Regions from separate parts of the Homo sapiens genome. Here all the other regions are reported to be linked to region 1. Evidence: microRNA targets listed by miRTarBase, many of them from high-throughput screens and not tested one by one. Region 1 holds a microRNA gene; each other region holds the end of a gene's coding sequence.
Evidence for each region. Region 1 holds the annotated microRNA hsa-miR-4323 (CAGCCCCACAGCCUCAGA, at 2,687-2,704, shown strand). A microRNA usually pairs through its seed, bases 2 to 8, with sites in the 3' UTR of a target mRNA and lowers its output. Matches are read on the target gene's strand: a 7mer-m8 pairs with bases 2 to 8, a 7mer-A1 pairs with bases 2 to 7 and ends in A, and an 8mer does both.

Region 1 (5,482 bases):
GCTGCTGCTGCTAATGAAGACAAAGAGGAAGATATATTTTAAGTCCCTGAATGCTGGATACTCCTAAGCAGAACTTGACTTTGACTTAGGGCTGCTGGAGAAGCAAAGGGGCACTTCGGGTCTAGAGGGCAAAGCAGGTGTGTAAACAGGAAATAGGCTTGAGGTCATGTCTGTAATCCCAGCACTTTGGGAGGCTGAGGTGTGTGGATCACATGATCTCAGGAGTTCGAGACCAGTTTGGCCAATGTGGTGAAACCCTGTCTCTCCTAAAAACACAAAAATTAGCCTGGCCTGGTGGTGTGCACCTGTAATCCCGGCTACTCGGGAGGCTGAGGAGGCGTGAGATGCGCTTGAACCCAGGAGGCGGAGGTTGCAGTGAGCCGGGATTGTGCCATTGCACTCCAGCCTGAGCGACAGAGTGAGACTCTGTCTCAAAGGAAAAAAAAAAAAAAAGAGCCTGGACTTTAAAAATAAAGCTAAAGCTTAATTTAATTTTTTTTAAAAGGGGAAATAGGCTTGAGCCTAGAAGCCAGGAAAGTGGGCAAGAGTGGCAAGCAGTGTCTCGGGTGGGCCAGAGCTGAGGCTGGGCATGGTTTGAGGGTCTCTGAGGCCCACTGGGGGACCACATGGCCCTGCAGCAGGAGCAGACACACATCTCTTTGTGTATGTGTTTGTCTGCCACCCCTATCATCCTGTTTTCCTGCCACCCCTATCATCCTGTTTTCCTGCTTGTTTGGGTCCCTAGGTTAGCTTTCCCTAACCCCCCAGAGGCTGCCCCTGGCCTGGGCGCTGCTGAAGCCCCGTGTGCTTAGATGCAGCAAGGGGACTGGGCAGAGGGAGGTGGGTATCATTGAGTCTTGGGCCCAAGTTCATCTCCTGGCCCAGCCATGGACTCAGAGTATGGCCTGAGGCTTGGTCTCCCTGTCTCCTGCCAAGCTAGGGGTCTGAGGAGCCTCTCTGAGCTCCCACATGCCACAGCCCTACAGATGAGGGCAGTGCCTATGGGGAAAGAACCCTTGGGTTCCCTCACAGAGCAAGGATGATGCTGGGGGCTGAGTAGAGAGATCACCAAAGCAGCAGACATTCAGAGAGAGGCTGGGGAACTGAGCCACAGAGAGGGTCCCCAGGGGTGGCCAAGAGGAAGAGGCCATGGCTGGGGGGCCCTGAGGGGTGAAGAATCTCGCTCTGCTGTCCCCGGTGGGCTGGCTGCTCCCCCCCACCACTCCCCGCCGGGCCCCCGGGGGACCTCGCTCTAATAATGTATTTGATCGACTCGCCGGCCGCGTACAAGCGATTATTGTCTTGTCGGGAGTCAAACGTATCGATCCGGCGAGAAATATGAGCGGAGCAATGGGGCCCGCGTGTCAGTTACCAGCCCCGCTGGCCCTGGGGAGCCCCCTACGTCTCCTTTAATTACCGCTCAGCCCTGAGCCCAGCCTGGCCTCCCCTGTACCGCCTCCCTCCCAGCTCCCTGCACCTCAAGTGGCCCCCACTGCTCCCTAGCTCCCATGCCCTACCTGCCTCCCTCAGCATGGCTCGAGGCCTCTTCTGTGGCAACGAGGCCACCATCTCCCCCTGCCTTGAGCCTCCCTGTTCCAGCTGCCAGTGTGTTCCAAACTCTGCCCCTCTATCCTCTCTCAGGCAGGCCCATCCTCCTTCAAGATCCCCTCACCAGGCCCAGCTCTGGTCTGAGGCACTGAGAATGGAGCCAGCATGGGAGGCGAGAGGTGTGGGGTTGTTTCATCTCTCAGGGAGCGTATACAGCCTTCCCCGGCTCCAGGACTGAACTGCAGACCTGGCCGCACTGGAAGTGGGTGGTCCTTCTCTGCTGGCTCTAGGGGGCTGGAATGGGGTCACATCCAAAAGCGTGTTCCTGACGTGGATGATGTTGAGTCTGTCCAGGGTGGAGCATAAGGGTGGCTGGTGAGGTTTTGCCCCCCCCCATAATGTCCTATAGCCCCATTTCCAAGCCCCCCAAAACAAATCCTAACTGAAAACAAAGCTTACTGCGTAAATGTCGCTTTGAGACAAGGCTCCAGTGTCCACTGCTACCAGGCTGCTGTCGGGAAGACCCTCATGTATAGAAATCCTGTGGCCAGTTGCTGTGTGGTCTGTGGATCTCCTCTGTGAAATGGCCTTTACGATACGGGATGTTGTGGAGTGTAGATGCCGGGAAACGGTCACCTCTCGTGTGCATATATGAGAACTGCCAGTCCTTCCTGTTGTGCCCACCTGCTTGCCTGGGTGTGTCTGGGTGCACAGGGCACGTGTGCAGTCAGGGGAGGGCACTCCTGTAGTTGTGCCTGTAGTATACCCTTTCTGAGTGTGCCTGTGTGTGAGTGGGTGCGAGTGGCCAGGAAGTATGCTTGGGCACATATGTGTAGAAGTGCCCTTGTGCCCATGGGTCCATGTGAGGGAGTAGAGGAGGTATCAGTATATGGGAGTGACCATCGTCAGCAGGGAGGGCTGGTGTTGGGGCCTGTGCACATAGATGTGTTCATGCACGTGTGTGTGCACACGTGTGTGTGTGTGAAGTGCTGGGGTTCATCTGTAGAAATACTTGTGTGTGTGAGGGTGAGTCCAGGCGTCTGTGCATGCACCTGTGGTTTAGGGGGCCCCCCAGCCACGGGGCGCAGGATGTCCTGCGGGGCCCAGGCGGGCATGTGGGGTGTCTGGAGACGCCAGGCAGCCCCACAGCCTCAGACCTCGGGCACCAAGAGGAAGAGGGCAGCGGACTCGGGCGCGCCTTTGTCTGAGCTGCGGTGCGCCGGGAGTCCTGCGCCTTTGTGTGACCCTCGCAGGTGTGCGAGCGGAGGTGTTGGGAGGGTGTTGGGGAGGGGAGCGGAGGGAGGGGCTCCCTTCTCCGCAGCCGGCCCCGCCCTCCGGCCCATTGGCTGGGCGCTGCCGCCCTCTGGCGGGCACGGAGGGAAGCGCTGAAATGGGAGCGCCGCAGCGCGAAGAGCCAGCCGGCAGCCCGGGGACCTGGTGCTCCCCTCCACTGGAGCCGCCTCGGGCGCCCGCATTTGGCCGGCGACTTATTGTAGCCCCAGGCCAAGTCCCCGACCCACCGTCCCCACTACCACTGCCCACGGGCACCACTTCCTCCCAATGGTGGCACCCAACAGCTCACCTGCAGATAGGCGCAGGGCTTGCTTGATCTTCCCTGCCGCGGCGTGCTTTTAAGCTTCAACGCTTCTTGGCTCTGGGCCTTTGGGAAAGCTACTGCTCACCTCTCTGATCCTCAGTCTTTTCATCTGTAAAATGGGGCAAATAAGAGTGACCACCACATTGGAGATGGCACCTGTCAAGAGTGAGGCACAGGGTCAGGCATCGGCAAAGCCCTCTCTCCAATAAGCTGCTGGCTAGTGTTTTATTGTTGTTACTGCTGTGGACCCACCTTCTCTCCCAGACCCCCATTCCCTGTTCCAGACTTGTTTGCCTCCATGGGGGCGACAGAAGTCGGGGGGCAACTGTTGCAGGCACCTCTTGGATCGCAGCCGTAGGAGTCGGCTCTTCCAGCCTGCTTATCCTCTGCCCCACTAGCCCCCACCCCCCAGCACACACACATGATTTGGGGTGGGCCGGGCTGCCGGGGCGGGTCTGTGGGCCAGGGTATTTTCCCTTCTGAAGGGGGCGGACCGGCCCTGTGGTTTCCTCCCTGAGTGACTTCCGGCAGGGAGGGCTCGGCCCCCAGAGAGGGTGGGGAGATGACACAGTTGTTCCCCCAGCCCTGGCGGGGCGGGCAGCATGGTTCACTCCAGCATGGGGGCTCCAGGTAAGGGGGCTGGTGCCTGTGCCACTGCTCAGAGGACAGGCAGCACATTTAGGTTTGCTCTGCGGGCCCTGCCTGCCCCTCCTCCTCAGCTGTCTCCATTGTCCTTCTCCTCTGTACTCTAGCAACTCCCTCTCTCCCATGCCGGGTCCCCGCTAACCCCCACAGCTCCTCTTTGCCCTCTCTTTCCACATCAGGCACCGGAACTTCCAACATCTTCTCTTCTCTGTTGCCCTGTTCCGAAGGGTCTGGGGACGGGAGGGAGGGAGCTGGGTGTTGGTAGCGGGCCCTCATGTGGAGAACCAGTGGGGTGGGTGACATGGGCAATCCTTGGATAAGGGCTGCAAAGGGATTGGAATGCCAAGTTGCTGGACTTGGGGGATGTCATTCCCTTTTGAGTGTGTGTGTGCACATCTGGTACAGGTGTGCGTGTGCATGTGTGTGTGCAGTAGTTCTGAGTGCTCTGAGTGGGACTGCTGTGTGCTTGTGAGTGTAGGGGGCTGTTGTGTGTGGCATTGTGGGGTGATGATTGCCTGGCTCCCTTCTTCACTTCATTCACCTCAGATGTCACCTCCTCAGGGCAGCCTTCCCTGACCTCCCCATCTAAACTGGCACTGATCCTGTCACTCTCAGTCCCCTCACCCTGCTTTATCTTTTCTTCACGGCACGTATCACTGCTGGGAATTTCATTATGTGTTTGTTTGTGTGCTTATTAAATGCCTTCTCCACCAAATGTCAGTTGGCTGAGTGAACATTGTGCACCAGGCACTGTACAAGGTGATTTATAGCTGTTGGCTCATTTAGTAGAATGTGTATATGTCTGTATGGTGATGGCTATCACTCAGCAGTGTTGATGGGAGTCTTAAATGAGGTAATACATGTAGCATGCTTAGCACAGTGCCTGGAACATGGCAAGCACTCAGCCCTTCATGCCTGTTTCATTTGTGGCTGTGTAGGCATGACCATGGGCATGAGTCTTGGTTTGGTGGTGTGTGCTGTCCTATATGCGCCATTGTGTGCGGGCACCCGTGTGTCCTCCACCAACATGTATCTATTGAGTAGTTCTGTGTTGGGTGTTGGAAGTACAGTGGAAAGGGTAGCTCAGGTCTGTCCTCCTGGAGCTCCCAGTTTATTGGAGAAGACAGACCTGTCACCAATGACAGTACAGACAGGTCAGGGCTGGGATGGGGGAGGTCCAGGCAGAGGGATCAGGGCTGGGATGGGGGAGGCCCAGGCAGAGGGGTCAGGGCTGGGATGGGGGAGGCCCAGGCAGAAGGGTCAGGGCTGGGGTGGTGGGCACAGGCAGAGGTGTCGGGGTGGGATGGGGGGACAAAGGTAGAGGGGTTGGGGCTGGGATGAGGGAGGCCCCAAGCAGAGGGGTCAGGGCTGGGGTTGGGGAGGCTCAGGCAGAGGGGTCAGGGCTGGGATGGGGGGACATAGGTAGAGGGGTTGGGGCTGGGATGGGGGAGGCCCAGGCAGAGGGGTCAGGGCTGGGATAGGGGGACATAGGTAGAGGGGTTGGGCCAGGACGGGGAGGTATTAGGGGATCGTAGGAGCCCTGAAAACATGTGATTTAGTTGGTAGAGTGTCAAGGAGGGCTTCCTGGAGGAAGGGGGTGTCTGAGCAGGGATATGAAGAATGAGTGGGTATGAGCAAGCAAAGGCGGTGAGGAGAGGGGTGGGATGAAAGGAAGACTATTTGCAGGGTGAC
Region 2 (3,000 bases), not on the chromosome of region 1:
CTTCCTTGTCCAGGAAGCCCCTCCCTTTCCAAGAGCTGCTCCTGGCCCCTCTGCAGGTCCAGGTCTGGGGTCTTCAACTCATCCATGGCAACCCAACTTCAAATAATATGTGAATGAGCAAACCATCCAGGGTCCCAACAGGCCCCATTTTTAGGAATCCTTGCGACAAGGACCAGCAGAGCCTCCTGCCCCTAACCCATCCAACACTGTTGTCACAGGCATATTTCATTCCGGCTGAGGCCCTGAGGCTCCTGTTTGGATGTCACCCCTACCCCTTACCAGAGGGAAATCACTTTAAGCCATCACTAACTCCTGACAGTTCAGACCCCCTGCCTCAGGCCATTTCTAAGAGGAGAAAAGGGTTGGAATCAGGAGGGGAGTCAAAGAGGGAGACCCCACCAAAGTAGGGCAGGGGAAATGGACCTCAGGCCTGCTTCACGAGCATGGTGTGACCTTGGGAAAGTTGCCTCCCTTCTCTGGGCCTAGCTCCCCCTTGCCAAGAGCAGACAGTGCAGGGGGCACAGGGGCCGATTCACAGCAGGTACTTGGTAGAAGGCTGTTCCCTCCTCTTCCTGGTTCCCAGAGCCCAGGACTCCAATGCACATTCCTGTATGGTGCTGCCTTCCAGAATGTCACCAGCCTGCAGGCCAAAGGCAGAACTGGGTCCCGCTTCACACCCCAGCAGAGAAAGGTCTGGGCCAGGACCACCACTCAGGCATCCTCCAGACCCTGCTTTGATTCCAGCAATGATGAGTGGTCCATGGCTGCCGCCTTGTGGCCTAGTGCAGGACTGCAGCCAGCACGCTGAGCTGGGGCAGTGGCCTTAGCAGAGCAGGGGGCGCCTCCAGTCTCACCCACTCAGGTGGGCCTCAGGGCTGGCTGGGCAGTGCAAGGTCAGATCCAGGAGCGGATTCCAGCCCCTCAGCACTTGGATAAGGGGGTCCAACCTGTCCTGGCTGGAGGCAGAAGGGTCAGACATTCGACCTGTGGATCTGGCCAGAGCGACCCACAGGAGGTGGGAGACTCAAGGGGCTTAGCCCCAGCCTGTGAAATAGGTCAGTAGGACTCAGGGAACCGGTTCCAGTCTCCTGCCATATACCTCCCCTTCCTGAGACAGCGAGAGGGAACCTGGAGTCCAGCTCCCCAAGTCTTCCGCTGGACCCAGGCTCCCCACTGAGCTGGATGCCTGAGTCGGAGGTCACATGGCCCATCCCCACCCACTCTGCCCAGCCCCACTGGCTGAGGCTAAGGATGGAGGTCAGCCTGTCCGCCCACTGAGCCCCCGAAGAGCGGGTGGTAATGAGGCTCTAGGCAGAGGCGGGAATGTGGTGTCTGGCACCTCCCCAGGGAGTCCCAAACCCATCTCTGAGCAACTCATTATTTCCTCTGCAGGCCAGGGCCTCATCTTCTTAGTGGAGATGGCCAGGCAGTGCCCAGTGAGGGCAGCCCCCTGGTGCATGGCAGGCCCCACCTCTGGAGGGGTAGGCACTGGGGCCACAGGTGACCCAAAGGTGCTTCTTCTCAATTTCCTCAGGCTCCTGTGGCTCTGACCTTGTGTCTCCAGCAGGGGGCTGCTGCAGGGCTGCCAGGCCTGAGTCACTGACACACCACACCCAGGCCCCAGCTGGGACTCAGACTCGGACTGCAGCAGGACAGGGGCTTGTGTCCAGCCAGGGTCAGTGCTGGCCAGGAAAGGACCGGCATTCCCAGCCTGGCTGCAGGATAGTACAATGGGGAAGGCATGGAGTCAAGCCAGGGCTCTGCTTGGGGAAGGGGGTCGTCTGAATAGCTCAGGGCCTGGAGAAAGCAAGGCCTAGGTTCTCAGCTTCAGGCACTAGGCACTCACCCCTGGGCTTCCCGACCTCCTGTCCCCTCCTACCCCAGGACGCCCAATCCCCTTAGCCAATCACAGGCCTCAGCACCATAGGGTAAAATATACAGATATATTTATATTATCAAAAAGTCCCCAAATTGGGGAAGGGGCATCAGGTAGTCTGGACCCCCCACTCAGCCCAGACTGGAAGGAAGGCTGAAGTCCCCAAAGCGCAGCTCTCAGCCCTGTAGAAGCTCAGCCAAGAGCTCCCTCCCCGTGAGCTGAGTGCTCCTCTACAGCACCCGCTTTCTGCTGTTCTGGAGTTTGTTGGGAGGAGCAGGGGGCTCCCTTCCGGCAGGGCCCCAGGGCCTCACGCCTCTGAAAGGGTGGTGGTCCTCCCAAGTTCCTGACTTATGCCCATCTCTCCAGCCCCACAAGGACAGTGAACCCGGTGGGGTGAGCAGGTTGGGCCAAGAGGTCTGAACACCTGGACAGAGTTGGGAGAGGTTCCTGCCCAGGCTGACCCCTGCTGCCTCCCACCCCTGCCGGGGAACCCCATGCTGCAGTCAGGATGGAGGATGTGGGTTGTGGGGTGCAGTTTCCCATGCACCCCCCGCTGGCTCACATCAGGCCTTGGAGCATAAGGGGTGTCTGAACAGAAGGCTTCCAGCGGCGGAATCCTAGAGCCAAGGATGGGCTCCTGTGCTCAGACGTTGCGCAGAAGCTGCAGGAAGGCAAGAGACCCACAGGTATTTTGTGAAGGCCCAGAGGGGCTGGCGCCCCGCTGAAGCTGCTGCAGCTGCTGCAGCCACTCTCCACTGCCAGCCGGGGAGCACTCCAATCAGCCAGGCTCCCAGCTCCCAGGGCCAGGCAGAGGGGACTCCCAGCTTCCAGGGCCAGGCAGAAGGGGCTCCTTTGAATGGTGTGAACCAAAGAGGCCTATGAGGGCCCCCACCAAGGCTGGAGGGAGGGGGCCGGAGGGCAATCGGGGAGGGCAATCAGGGCAATCATCTACTGTGGAGTAGAAGGCAGGCACCCAGCCAGGCCCCCAGCCCCCTGCCCAAAGGCATGGAGAGCCACTCACAGACAGAGGGTCCGCGGTGAAGGCAGCCACACTCCGGCGCATTTCATTTTCACTACCTCGAAGGGGGATCAGTGACACACTACCCAGCCGGACCTCAGGCACT
Region 3 (5,482 bases), not on the chromosome of region 1:
CAGGAGGCTGAGGCAGGAGAATCGCTTGAACCTGGAGGCCGAGGTTGCAGTGAAAGGAGATCATGACATGGCACTCCAGTCTGGGCGACAGAGCAAGACTCCGTCTGGGAGAAGAAAAAAAAAAAAACACACAGGCCAGGCATGGTGGCTCACATCTGTAATCCCAGCATTTAGGGAGACTGAGGTGGGAGGATCATCTGAGTCCACCCTGGGCAACACAGAACTCCGTCTCATTTTATAAAAAACAGCCGGGCACGGTAGCTCATGCCTGTAATCCCAGCACTTTGGGAGGCTGAGGCGGGTGGATCAGGAGGTCAGGAGATCGATACCATCCTGGCCAACGTGGTGAAACCCCGTCTCTACTAGAAATACAAAAATTGGCCAGGCGCGGTGGTGGGCGCCTGTGATCCCAGCTACTTGCGAGGCTGGGGCAGGAGAGTTGCTTGAACCCGGGCAGCAGAGGTTGCAGTGAGCTAGGATCATGACACTGCACTCCAGCCTGGGCGACAGAGACTGTTTCAAAAAAAAATAAATACATAAAATAAAACATCTTCATGAATCAAAATTCACTAATTCCAGGCCTGCTACTGAAAAGGGATATGCATATGAAAACTATTAAGGGGACTTGTGGTTGGGAAGTAATTACTATTTAAAATCTTGTGTGAATTGTCCAATTTCTCCCGCACCTCCCATCAAGCAGTGTATGCTTTGGGTTACTACCCATACTGGACTGTTACCTCAGACAACATGCTGTGACTTTTCTACCTGTGATACTTTTTTTTTTTTTTTTTTTAAAGACAGAGTCTCACACTCTCGCCTGGGCTGAAGTGCAATGGCACGATCTCGGCTCACTGCAACCTCCACCTCCTGTGTTCAAGCGATTCTCTTGCCTCAGCCTCCCGAGTAGCTGGGATTACAGGCGCCTGCCACCACACGCAGCTAATTTTTGTATTTTTAGTAGAGACGTGGTTTCACTATGTCGGCCAGGCTGGCCTTGAAATCCTGACCTCATGATCCACCTGCCTCAGCCTCCCAAAGTGCTGGGATTACAGGCGTGAGCCACTGCGCCCAGCCTGAGAAATAATCTTCAAAAGCCTATTAATACACTTGCAGTTCCAGCAACATAAATTTGGCTTTCCTACATTCTGGATATACCAATAATAAACAAAGGCATCATGGTTTTTAAAACTTTATTTCAACATAACTATGCTTACAGAAATACACTCATATTGGTTAATAGAATGCAATTTAAGTTTAACTTATCCTACATAATTTGGACCAAAAACTTGGTACATGGTTTAGGATTTTAAAAAAGGATTTGCAATCTGGTTTATTTTTATCTATTACAAATGTATAAAAGATCTTCCATCAAATGCTGCTAAAGAAGGCAGCAAGAACCTTGAGAAATTTACCTTTGGTTTGCCTCAGAAAAGTAACACGTATTGCACTGCTTAAGTTTATAAAATTGGTGCAACAAAACATTGTTGTAATGTTTCAATGCCAGTTTAGAAAGTTCAATAACTAATGGATATGGAAGGGACCGGGAGGGAACCTATGTACACATGTGAAACTGTAAAAGCTATCTGATTTAGTTAATATTGCATGTAGATTGTAAATCTACACAAACCAAGATTCAGATAATTTCTTCAATCTGAATTAACACTATCTGTTCACTTCATCTGCTGAGGTCAACCAGGAAACTAGGAACACCAGCTGTAAGTTTTTCTGACTTATGTAAAAAAGAAACTTAACTTTCTTCCTCAGCTTATCAATCCAGAAGTGACAGTATACTACAGGCAAGGTATTCCTTCCATTGTCAACATTCATAGGGTGACATGCAATGAGGTCTACTTGGGTTTTAATTTGTATCAGCACTCATACGCAAAACAGTCTCCAAAGTTAATTACCACATGACTTTAGAAGTGACTCTAAAAAATAAAATGGCCCTTCTTAGAAGACTAGAGCAAAAGATCCAGCCATAGTTATAAGCCTTATTAAAAAAAAAAAAAAATGCAGCCCTTTGTGAATTACACAACTAAAAAAAAAAGTAGCCCCAGAATAAGAAGCAGCTCTGAAAAGAGGAAAAAATATAACTTAAAATATCTTGAAAACCAATGTGAATACAGGTTCAAAAGATAGTTAAGAGATTCATTTTCATAAGACTACCTAAGATTAAGGCTTATAATATATGCTAGTATTTCAAGTTTATCACTAATTACTAAACATCAATTTACAAATAACATGTTCAATTTTTGTTCTTTTATCCAAAGGGAAAATTCTAGGCTAAATTCTATCCAGTGTGGGGGAGGGGGACTAGAAAATAAAAAAGTTTCAAACAGTTCCATGCAAACATCACATTTTTCAAATGGAAAAACTTCCAACTGGACCAGAAGTTCATACTGCTAATGTACTTTTCATTGAAACAATTTTTAGTAAGTACAAATACATGGCATTAAGGTTCAGAACCTAATATAGGCCTGACAATCAAGTCCTTATTTTCTGGAGGAAGGCCTCAAGTCCAATAAATTTCCAGTAACAATGTTTTTACAAATCAATTTAATAATAAGGGGTTTTAATTTCCTTCATGTTTTTGTTTTTAGCATTCTAGTCTTAAGACTAGATTAGAAGTTAGCTCAATTCCCCAAAAGGCAAATGGTTTTTCTTTGCAGTATGAAAGAATCCACAAAAAAACCTCTTCCCCAAACTAATTCCTAATAACCAATCTGTGCTTAAGATGTATCTTTTTCTATACAATGTAAACGGTAACTTAGGTAAAATGTACCCATGAACATTAAAACTAGTCATTAGAAAGACTTAACTAGCTTTATAATTTAAGTTTTAAAACATAAATATTTGCAGCTTGATCTTCTGTTGACAATGATTGTCGGAGCCTAGAATTCAACATTTACAATGTCCATTCATGCACACAAAACACATACCATTATCACACAACTTACTCCTCATGTCTTAAGAGAAGAATCTTCCGCTTCTTTAAATCTTTGGCCTCCCAGTCAATGCCATGTTCAAACAACTTTTAACTCAAACTTCACTCTCAGATTTTTAACAAGCTTTCCACCCACACGTTATTAATGCTTTTCCTAATCTTTCATGTTGTACTGCCAAATCTGAAACCTGCCTCAAAGAGATCATCAGATTTTTAAAAAATGAAATATAAAGTGGTTATTTCAAAACGGAGTATGGGAGGTCAGAATTCAAGATTCCCTAATGGGATCATATTTTATTTTACTGCAATGAATGACTGCTATCAGTAAGAAAAATCCTCTATTGGATTCTTTCACACTCTTTGGCAACTGGCCAAAGAACCTACAAAAATGTTTTGGAGTACATGCCCTTTTTCATACAAAGTGCCCTCATAGGAACACCAGGATAGCTGCAATTCATTTGAGGCCTCACCTATAGAAAGAGGCTATCACACAGACAGCCAGGACACCCACCAGTTTGTGGAGATCCCTGAGAAAGTATGATTTTAAAAAATCTGGACTGTACTTGTTTCACCAGCCTTTTTCACTGTATAGGAAAGTTGCAGCTGGTCTACCAGCACTCATACTACCTTTCTTATCCTAGGTTTGCCGCGTAATAGCTATGGCTTTGGAATCTCCCAAGTGATATTCTATAAAACTTGAAGGAATAATTATATCTCCTAATTCCAGGTTTGTAGTTTCCAAATATCACTTACAGTTCTCTTTATTGTAAAGTAGCCATATGAACACCAACCATCTATGAGAAAAGGTTCTCCTCAAACATTTAACACTCTACAATTAGGAATTAGCTGTACCAAAACACATGAAAAAAAAAACTGATGGTTGGTATTTGAGATAAAAATTTGTTCGACATGCAACCTAGTGGTTTATTTATTGCAAAATCAAAACTGATAGCTGTGAATTTACTACATCCATTCGAAATAAATAAGTTATATGAAATACAGATTCTGGCATAGATATAAGATGTAAAAATCAAAATCAATAGATTGAACCTGCATATTTCATTTGCTCACAAACTTGCACACACTATTATTCTGCAAAATAGACAACTGCAGCAAAGAAAAAGAAAACTGCCCTTTTGCAAACAAGTCTAAAAGCATCCCTCCAAAGACGCCAAACAAAATAAACATGCATATATATATGTATAAAGTGTTACTGTTCAACACAAATGCTATTTCTAGGAAAAATTTAACTGCATAGGCAAAAAAACATAAACAGAAACCAAAAGAAAAAAAAAATGTGCAACATCTTAAGCCATTAAAGCACCAAAATAAAAAACACACCAAAATCACTGTTTTTATGACGATTAACATACACAAATAAAAAATATTGATCAAAACTCAGGAAGTAAATACTTGGACTGATAGACTGTCTATTGCTGGGGGAATTTTTCTTCAATTTAAATGTCTTCTCATCTCTAAAAAAAAAAATCTTAAAGTGCTAACTTTATATAAAGCAGGCAAATTCTTCAAGTAATTTGCTATTAAGTAAGCCAATTTTTTATAGATCTCAATAAAAAACGAAGAATAAACTAAAGTGAAACAGGAAGATAAGACATGGAGAAAAAAATGACAAGTTGTAGCTGGACAAAGCAATAAAATGCTGTTATACCATCTTAGCCTTCTAATTTCAATTAAACACATAAGCTAACAGATACCTGCTGGTTTAGTACACTCTCTTAGATTTACTAAAATTTACACAACAATCAACAGGTATACATAAAAAGTCCTAAGGAAAAGAATGCCACTTAAAAATCAACATCAGATACTAATTAAAGCAATCTTAAAAGGTTGTCTGCTATCATAAATGAATATAAAATGTAATATACCTTACAAACTAAGAACTGAAACCTTGTTCAAAGTTTCATTACTCCTGCCCTTGAGCTGCTTCTTCAAGATAGTACACATTAACCAAATGGCGATTGAGGTGTTTGCTGTAATCTTTTCCCTTTCTGAAAGAACGATCACAGAAGATACAAACAAAATCTCCCTTAGCCGCTTTGACTGCCAAGGCTTCCTTTGCATTTTTTCTGCTAGATTCTTGTGGAACTGGCCGAGCCCCATGCAATCCAGAATCATCACTACCCTCTGACATGTTGTCACTTAGGTCACTTCCTTCATGGCTGTGGATGCCTTCATCTTCATCAATTTCCTGAGACTCATTTGCTGCCATTGTAGCAGGAGGTGATGCCAGTGCAGTTTTGGACACTGCTTCACGTTCTTCTACTGCTGAAGGGGGAAGCATTGGTGAAACTGGTTCTTCAACTGTTGAATTTATACCAGTGAGATTCTCTCTTGTGTTCTGATCAGTGTCCATTTTCATTTCACAAACTATACTGTCAGTCTGATGTTTACCATTTAAAGTTTCACCCTCTGGCGTATTCAAGTTTTGTCCAGAGGATGAAATATGGGTAGATTCGTTGATATTAGCAGCAAGACCAGGTAGGCTCTCATCTGCCTCTTCTGCTCCTACTTTCTGAA
Region 4 (5,482 bases), not on the chromosome of region 1:
CACCACCACGCCCGGCTGATTTTTGTATCTTCAGTATGGATGGAGCTTCCCTTTGTTGCCCAGGCTGTTCTCCAACTCCTGAGCTCAAGCGATCTGCCTGCCTTGGCTTCCCAAAGTGCCGGGATTACAGGCCTGAGCCACGGCGCCCGGCCATCGTAAGGAGACTTTTAAACTTGAGGTGAAGAAGCATTCATCTGCTTTTAGCAATTTTTTTCTTTAAATATTTAAAAGTCTATAAGTAGCAACTCGACACGTATTTCTGTATTTCCATTACATCCTTTTATCTCCCCATATACATTTAGAAATATCTGGGATAACCTTTAGGTAATGTTAACAGCTGTTATTCCAGGGAGGACACTGGGCGCGTTTTTAAAGCTGTATTCGTTGCTGTATTAATAGCAAGCGGTGTTTCTGCAAAGCCAAGGAAGGCGTTTCTCCAGCGGGGCCGCGTCGGGCATTGTCTGGTGCGCCGGGGAAGGCCGCGAACTACATCTCCCAGGCGCCCCGCGCCCCGTTCCGCGCCCCGCGCCCCCGCCCGCGCGGCTCCTGCTGTGGTGCCGGAGCGTCCTCGGCTCGGTCCGGAGCCAGCCGGAGTCACAATTCGAATCGGGCGTGGGAAGCCCGGGGGACCACGCGGCCAACCCTGGGCGGACCTGCGCGCCGGAGACCGCGTCCCCGGGAGCCCCCAAACGCTACCCCGCGCGGCCGCCCGTGGCGCTGCGGAGGCCTGCGGGTGGGGAGGCGCAGTGGCGGCCGGGGCGACGGCCTAAGCACCACACTACTGCTGCGAGACTTCGGGGGATCCCCACTCCCCTCCCAGGATCCTTCCCACTCCCCTCCCAGGATCCTTCCCACTCCCCTCCCAGGATCCTTCCCACTCCCCTCCCAGGATCCTTCCCACTCCCCTCCCAGGATCCTTCCCACTCCCGAGACTGCTTCTTCTGTCCCCTTGATTCCACGCGCCTCAGAGACCCTCCCTCTGCCGTCCCGCGAAGAGCGCGCCCCTCCCCTTGCAAGGTGGGCTTCACATGCGCTCCCGCCGCACGCACCCTCCTCTGCCCCCGGGTTTCCTGCCGGGCCCTCATGGTTTGGGGCTGCCCATGCATTGCGGGATCCTGAGCAGCACAGCGCCGCCGCCTCTGCCCACCAGGTGCCGGCAGCCCCTGTGGAAGGCAGAATGCCCCTCTCACAGATACTTGTGTACAAATCCCCAGAACCTTGGAGCAGGCTGGGTTAACTGGGTTAAGTGGCAGGTTAGGAAGGGGGCTAACCAGTTCACCCGAAAGCAGGCAGGCGACCCTGGATCTTCCGGGTGGGCCCAGCGTAGCCACAAGTGTGTTTCAGGGTGCAGGAGGGAGGCAATGGAGAGGTGGGCAGAGAAGGGCAGGGCAGAGAGGGGCTCGGCCGCTCCGAAGGAGGCCACAACTACCAGCCAAGGAATGCAGGTGGCTTCTTGAGGCTAGAAAAAGGGAAACAGGGTCTCCCCTGGCACCTCCAGAAGGAACAGAACTCTGCCAACCCCTCATTCTGAGCCCAAAGATACCCATTTTGAACTTCTACAAAACTTAGCTAATACATTTGTGTTGTTTTAAAACACTCAAAGCCAGGCACCAGTGGAACACTCATGTAACCCCAGCTACTCAGGAGGCCGAGGCAAGAGGATTGCTTGGGTCAAGGAGTTCAAGACCAGCCTGAGCAACATACCAAGACTGTTTCTCTATAAAAACTTACAAAAAAAAAAATAAAGGCCGGGTGTGGTGGGATGCACCTGCAGTCCCAGCTACCCAGGAGGCCAAAGTCGGGGGATCACTTGAGTCCAATAGTTCAAGACCAGCCTGGGCAACATAGCAAGCCTGCCCCCCGCTCCGCCCCAACCACCAAAAAAAGAAAAAAGAAAAAGAAACCAAACCTACTGAATTTGTGGCAATTTTTATGGCAGCTACAGAAAACTAGTACACAAATCCCAGTTGTGACAACCTAAGCGGTCTCCAGGCACTGCCCCTGTCCCGGCACCACCTCTGTTGGAGAGGCCTGTGCCTCTCAGTGCCAATACCCTGCTGCCAGCTGGCCCTGTGGCCACCTTACCCACCAGGAGACTGGCTCTGGGCCTCAGCCTGAAGGAGGCCAGGGTTTTGTCTCTGCTGCCACCATGGGGGAGGTGCTCTGTAGGGAGACCTCATGGAGCAGAGAGGGCAACCATCCCAGCATCACCAGCATCCTGGACCACCACGCTCTGACTGCAGCCTCAGGAGACACTCAAACGAGAGCAGGAGAGCTGGCAGGATGAGCCCAGCCAACCCCCAAGTCACAGAACAACGAGTGGTTCTTTAAAGCCACTCAGCAACAGAGGACTGCCCAGCTCATCACCCCCATGGCAACTGCTTACCTGTCAGCTCCGCTCTGCCCTGTTTACACCTGGGGATGCCTGCCTGGCATGCAGCTGGGCCCATAGGATCCCATTCCCCACATCATCATCAGGGGCCTCAGAGGGGGTGGGTCATGACCCAAAACTCCCCACACCCTTAAGGACAGTGCCCTGCCCAAAACTCCCCACACCCTTAAGGACACCTGCCCTAGCCCCTGGAGGATCTGCCCTCCATCCACCTACCCTAGGGCTCCTGAGAAATGCAGAGGATCCCTAGGGTGCACCAAATGACATTCAGAGGACTTGGGAGAGAAGGGGAGCACCTGGCTGTGTAATCTTGGAAGGCTTCCTGAAGGAGGAGGGAACTTCACTGAGTCTTACAGTAAGAAGGGGAGACAGGCAGGTGCAGAGGATTCAACTCGGGCCAGGGATCCTGTGTCAGGGCAGCAGGTGGCTGGCAGTGCAGTCAGGTGGCTTCTCAGCAGCGGGAAGGGGAGGGTTACAGGCCAGGTGGGCAGCACAGCCAGCATGTAGTGTATCTGGTGGTCCAGGCCACCGCACAGGTCCAGCTCCTGCCCTCACCTGGAGCCCAGGAGTGATCACCTCCGCTTGCCCCAAAGCCTCCTCCACCTAGCCACCTCCACAGAAGCCCAGTCAGGCCCCTAACAGTCAGTCACAGAGTTCAGGGCCCTTTCCCCACCCCCACCCACCCCGGGCTGGGAACCCATGCTCACAGCTCTCCTGCCCCGCCTCCCAATCCAGTCCCCCTGCAACTTAGTGTCCCCAAAATGCAGCTGGGACACGTTACCCCGGCTCAGCACCCTTCCGAGGGCCCTGCAGCCTGGAAACGAGGCAGTCACCCAGTGGACCATGTCCCACAGGCCCCTGCGGCAGCCAGCTCCTCACAGTTGCTCAGACCCCCTGCGCAGGATACCCTCTTGGCCCTCGTCCACCACCAGCATCGCTGTCCAGAGGCCAGGAGGCATCTCTGCCTCCAGACAGCCTCCCTCTGTGCTGGGCACTGCATTGGGTCCCTGGGCTTGCTGCTCCCCACCACAGCACCCCTGGGGTCCCGTGTGCCCTTCTGGGTCTTCAGAGGCAGGACCCAATGTGAGACCCCGCCCCCTGGAGAACTCTGCCTGGCCCATCTCACAGCCTGGTGCAGGCAGATACCCAGTTCCCCAGACCAGGCCAGCCAAGGAGCTGAGTCTCCAGGCAGCGCCTGCCACTGGGGCTTCCCAGGACACCAGTGCACCTCAGGCAGGCCCAGGTACCCCAGGCCTCCTCCCAGCGGCCCCGAGGGCAAGCTCCTGCTACCCAGGCCTTGCCAGGGCCCTCTCAGACTGACCCGGGGCAGTGTTCCCCTCCCCTAGATGGCCTCCCATAGCCCCTAGCCCGGTCTCCAAGGCCTCAGCAGCTGCAGGCTGTCCGGAGCCAGGTCCTGCCTGGCCTGTTTTCCTAACATGGGTGGGTGGTGACCCCCTGGTGGGGCACAAAGAAGGCGCAGAGGCTGCCCCCACCGTGGGCCCCCAAGGAAAGGCACTGGAAGACAGACAATGGGCTGAATGGGGCTCTTAGGAAGGGGGTGACCTCGAGGCCTCGAAAGTCGCATTATGCCAGAAAGGCGCACTGCGCGCCAGGAAGGCCTGGAAGGCGTTGGTGGACTCGGTGGACCTCAGCGGGTGGGGAAGGAGCACGTCCTTGTCCACGTCCTCCGACACCAGCTGGGCTACCATCTGCACGACGTCCTGCGGGCGAGGGTGGTCAGGGAGCCTCGAGGGGCGGGAAGGGGACAACGGCGGGGCCCGGGAGCGCCGGGGTAAAGGGCCCAGTGGGACTGAGTCGAGGGAGGCGAGGCGGAGGGGCGGGGCGGGGCGGGGACGGGGCGGGGAGGACCCGCCCCCCGCGCACCCTGCAGTGCAGCTGGGTCCCGGCGGCGCCCGGCCTCTCCCGGCCGCCCAGCGTGGCCAGCCGCCGGCGCTCGTCGATGCTGACGCTCCAGCGGCGGCCCGGGCGCCTGCGTTCCGGCGGCTCGCACACCTGGGGGACAGGGCAGCGGGTCGGCGAGGGCCTCGGCGCCAGCTCCCCTTCGCCGCTCCCACCCAGCACCCGCCGACCCTCAGAGCTCGCCCCCGGGCGCTTTCTAAAGCGCCGTCTGCTCAGCCTCCCGCTGCTCCAGCGCCAGCTCCCGGCGCGGGGCCTCAGGCAGTGTGGCCCTCTGTGGCTTTGCACAGTCATCTGTGCCAGGACACCGCCCAACCCAGTACCTGCCCCGCTTCATGTACAGCAGGGCTGCCTGTGGACCGCTTAGTCCTCACGGCCGGCCCCCGGCTTGACCGGCAGGAGAACCCCCGGAGCTCGAGCACTGATGCGTGCCTCAGGAAAGGCAGGACTAAGGCCAGCTCCAGACTGCCCTTCTCCCCAGACCCCTCTGAAATGATCATAAAGAGAGTTCGGGAGAAAATAAAGATCATGAATCCATAGACAAAAGACCAGCGCCAGTGGAGGAGGGCCCCTGGCAGGGTACAGGAGACTGGAGGGCAGGGACCACCAGCTGGAGAAGCTGTGGGAGGGCCACAGGGAAAGGCCAGAAGCAGGTGAGGTCCCCAGCACGACCTCTATCCCCCAAGAAGGAACTTCCCACGTGGGCTGCAGGAGACGGTTCCTCCAGACTCTGCTCAGCCTGAGGTTCACCATCCTCCACCTCCCTCACCAGGGGGAAGGGGAGAGGGGAGAGAAGGCAGTGCCATGCTAAGAGTGGGATTCATGCAAACCCGAAGTGAATTCTCATTCCTCAAAACATTAAAATCAGAATTGCATGGGATCCAGCAATTCCGCTTTGGGGTATGTACCCAAAAGAGTTGAAGGCAGGAAGGCAAACAGATGTGCGCACTCCAACACAGCAGTGGTCATTATTCACAATAGCGAAAATGTGGAAGGAATCCAGGTTTCCACAATGGATCAATGGATAAAGAAAATGTGGCAGATCCAGAAAATGGAATATTATTAAGCCTTAAAAAGTAAAAAGGCTGGCCGGGTGTGGTGGCTCATGCCTGTAATCCCAGCATTTTGGGAGGCCGAGGCGAGTAGATCACCTGAGGTCAGGAGTTCGAGACT

Region 2: the mRNA of ARAP1 is a reported target of hsa-miR-4323. Seed matches in the 3' UTR shown: 7mer-m8 at 2,241-2,247.
Region 3: the mRNA of REST is a reported target of hsa-miR-4323. Seed matches in the 3' UTR shown: 8mer at 2,049-2,056.
Region 4: miRTarBase lists TEX22 as a target of hsa-miR-4323. Seed matches in the 3' UTR shown: 7mer-A1 at 3,750-3,756 and 7mer-A1 at 2,575-2,581.

The regions. Positions count from the first base shown.
Region 1 is chr19:42,130,677-42,136,158 of GRCh38, reverse strand. It overlaps MIR4323 (microRNA 4323), which reads left to right and starts at 2,646; the gene lies at 2,646-2,714. It overlaps POU2F2 (POU class 2 homeobox 2), which reads left to right and starts at 3,713. Exons shown (of 15, transcript NM_001394376.1): 1 at 3,713-3,775. The coding sequence starts at 3,748. It overlaps LNROP (long non-coding regulator of POU2F2), which reads right to left and starts at 3,530. Exons shown (of 3, transcript NR_038332.1): 1 at 3,398-3,530; 2 at 3,131-3,254. RefSeq lists an enhancer at 2,442-2,491 and a silencer at 2,772-3,031.
Region 2 is chr11:72,683,145-72,686,144 of GRCh38, forward strand. It overlaps ARAP1 (ArfGAP with RhoGAP domain, ankyrin repeat and PH domain 1), which reads right to left. Exons shown (of 35, transcript NM_001040118.3): 34 at 2,898-3,000; 35 at 1,925-2,537. The coding sequence ends at 2,520. Among named protein-coding and RNA genes, the nearest start is that of PDE2A, 10 kb to the left of the region's middle. RefSeq lists an enhancer at 1,590-2,149.
Region 3 is chr4:56,931,539-56,937,020 of GRCh38, reverse strand. REST (RE1 silencing transcription factor) reads right to left here. Exons shown (of 4, transcript NM_005612.5): 4 at 1,177-5,482. The coding sequence ends at 4,869. Among named protein-coding and RNA genes, the nearest start is that of REST, 26 kb to the right of the region's middle. RefSeq lists an enhancer at 1-322.
Region 4 is chr14:105,410,291-105,415,772 of GRCh38, reverse strand. It overlaps TEX22 (testis expressed 22), which reads right to left. Exons shown (of 4, transcript NM_001195082.2): 3 at 4,277-4,405; 4 at 1,914-4,113. The coding sequence ends at 3,940. Among named protein-coding and RNA genes, the nearest start is that of MTA1-DT, 6.7 kb to the left of the region's middle. RefSeq lists silencers at 418-827, 4,243-4,372, 4,473-4,532 and enhancers at 3,165-3,667, 3,668-4,171.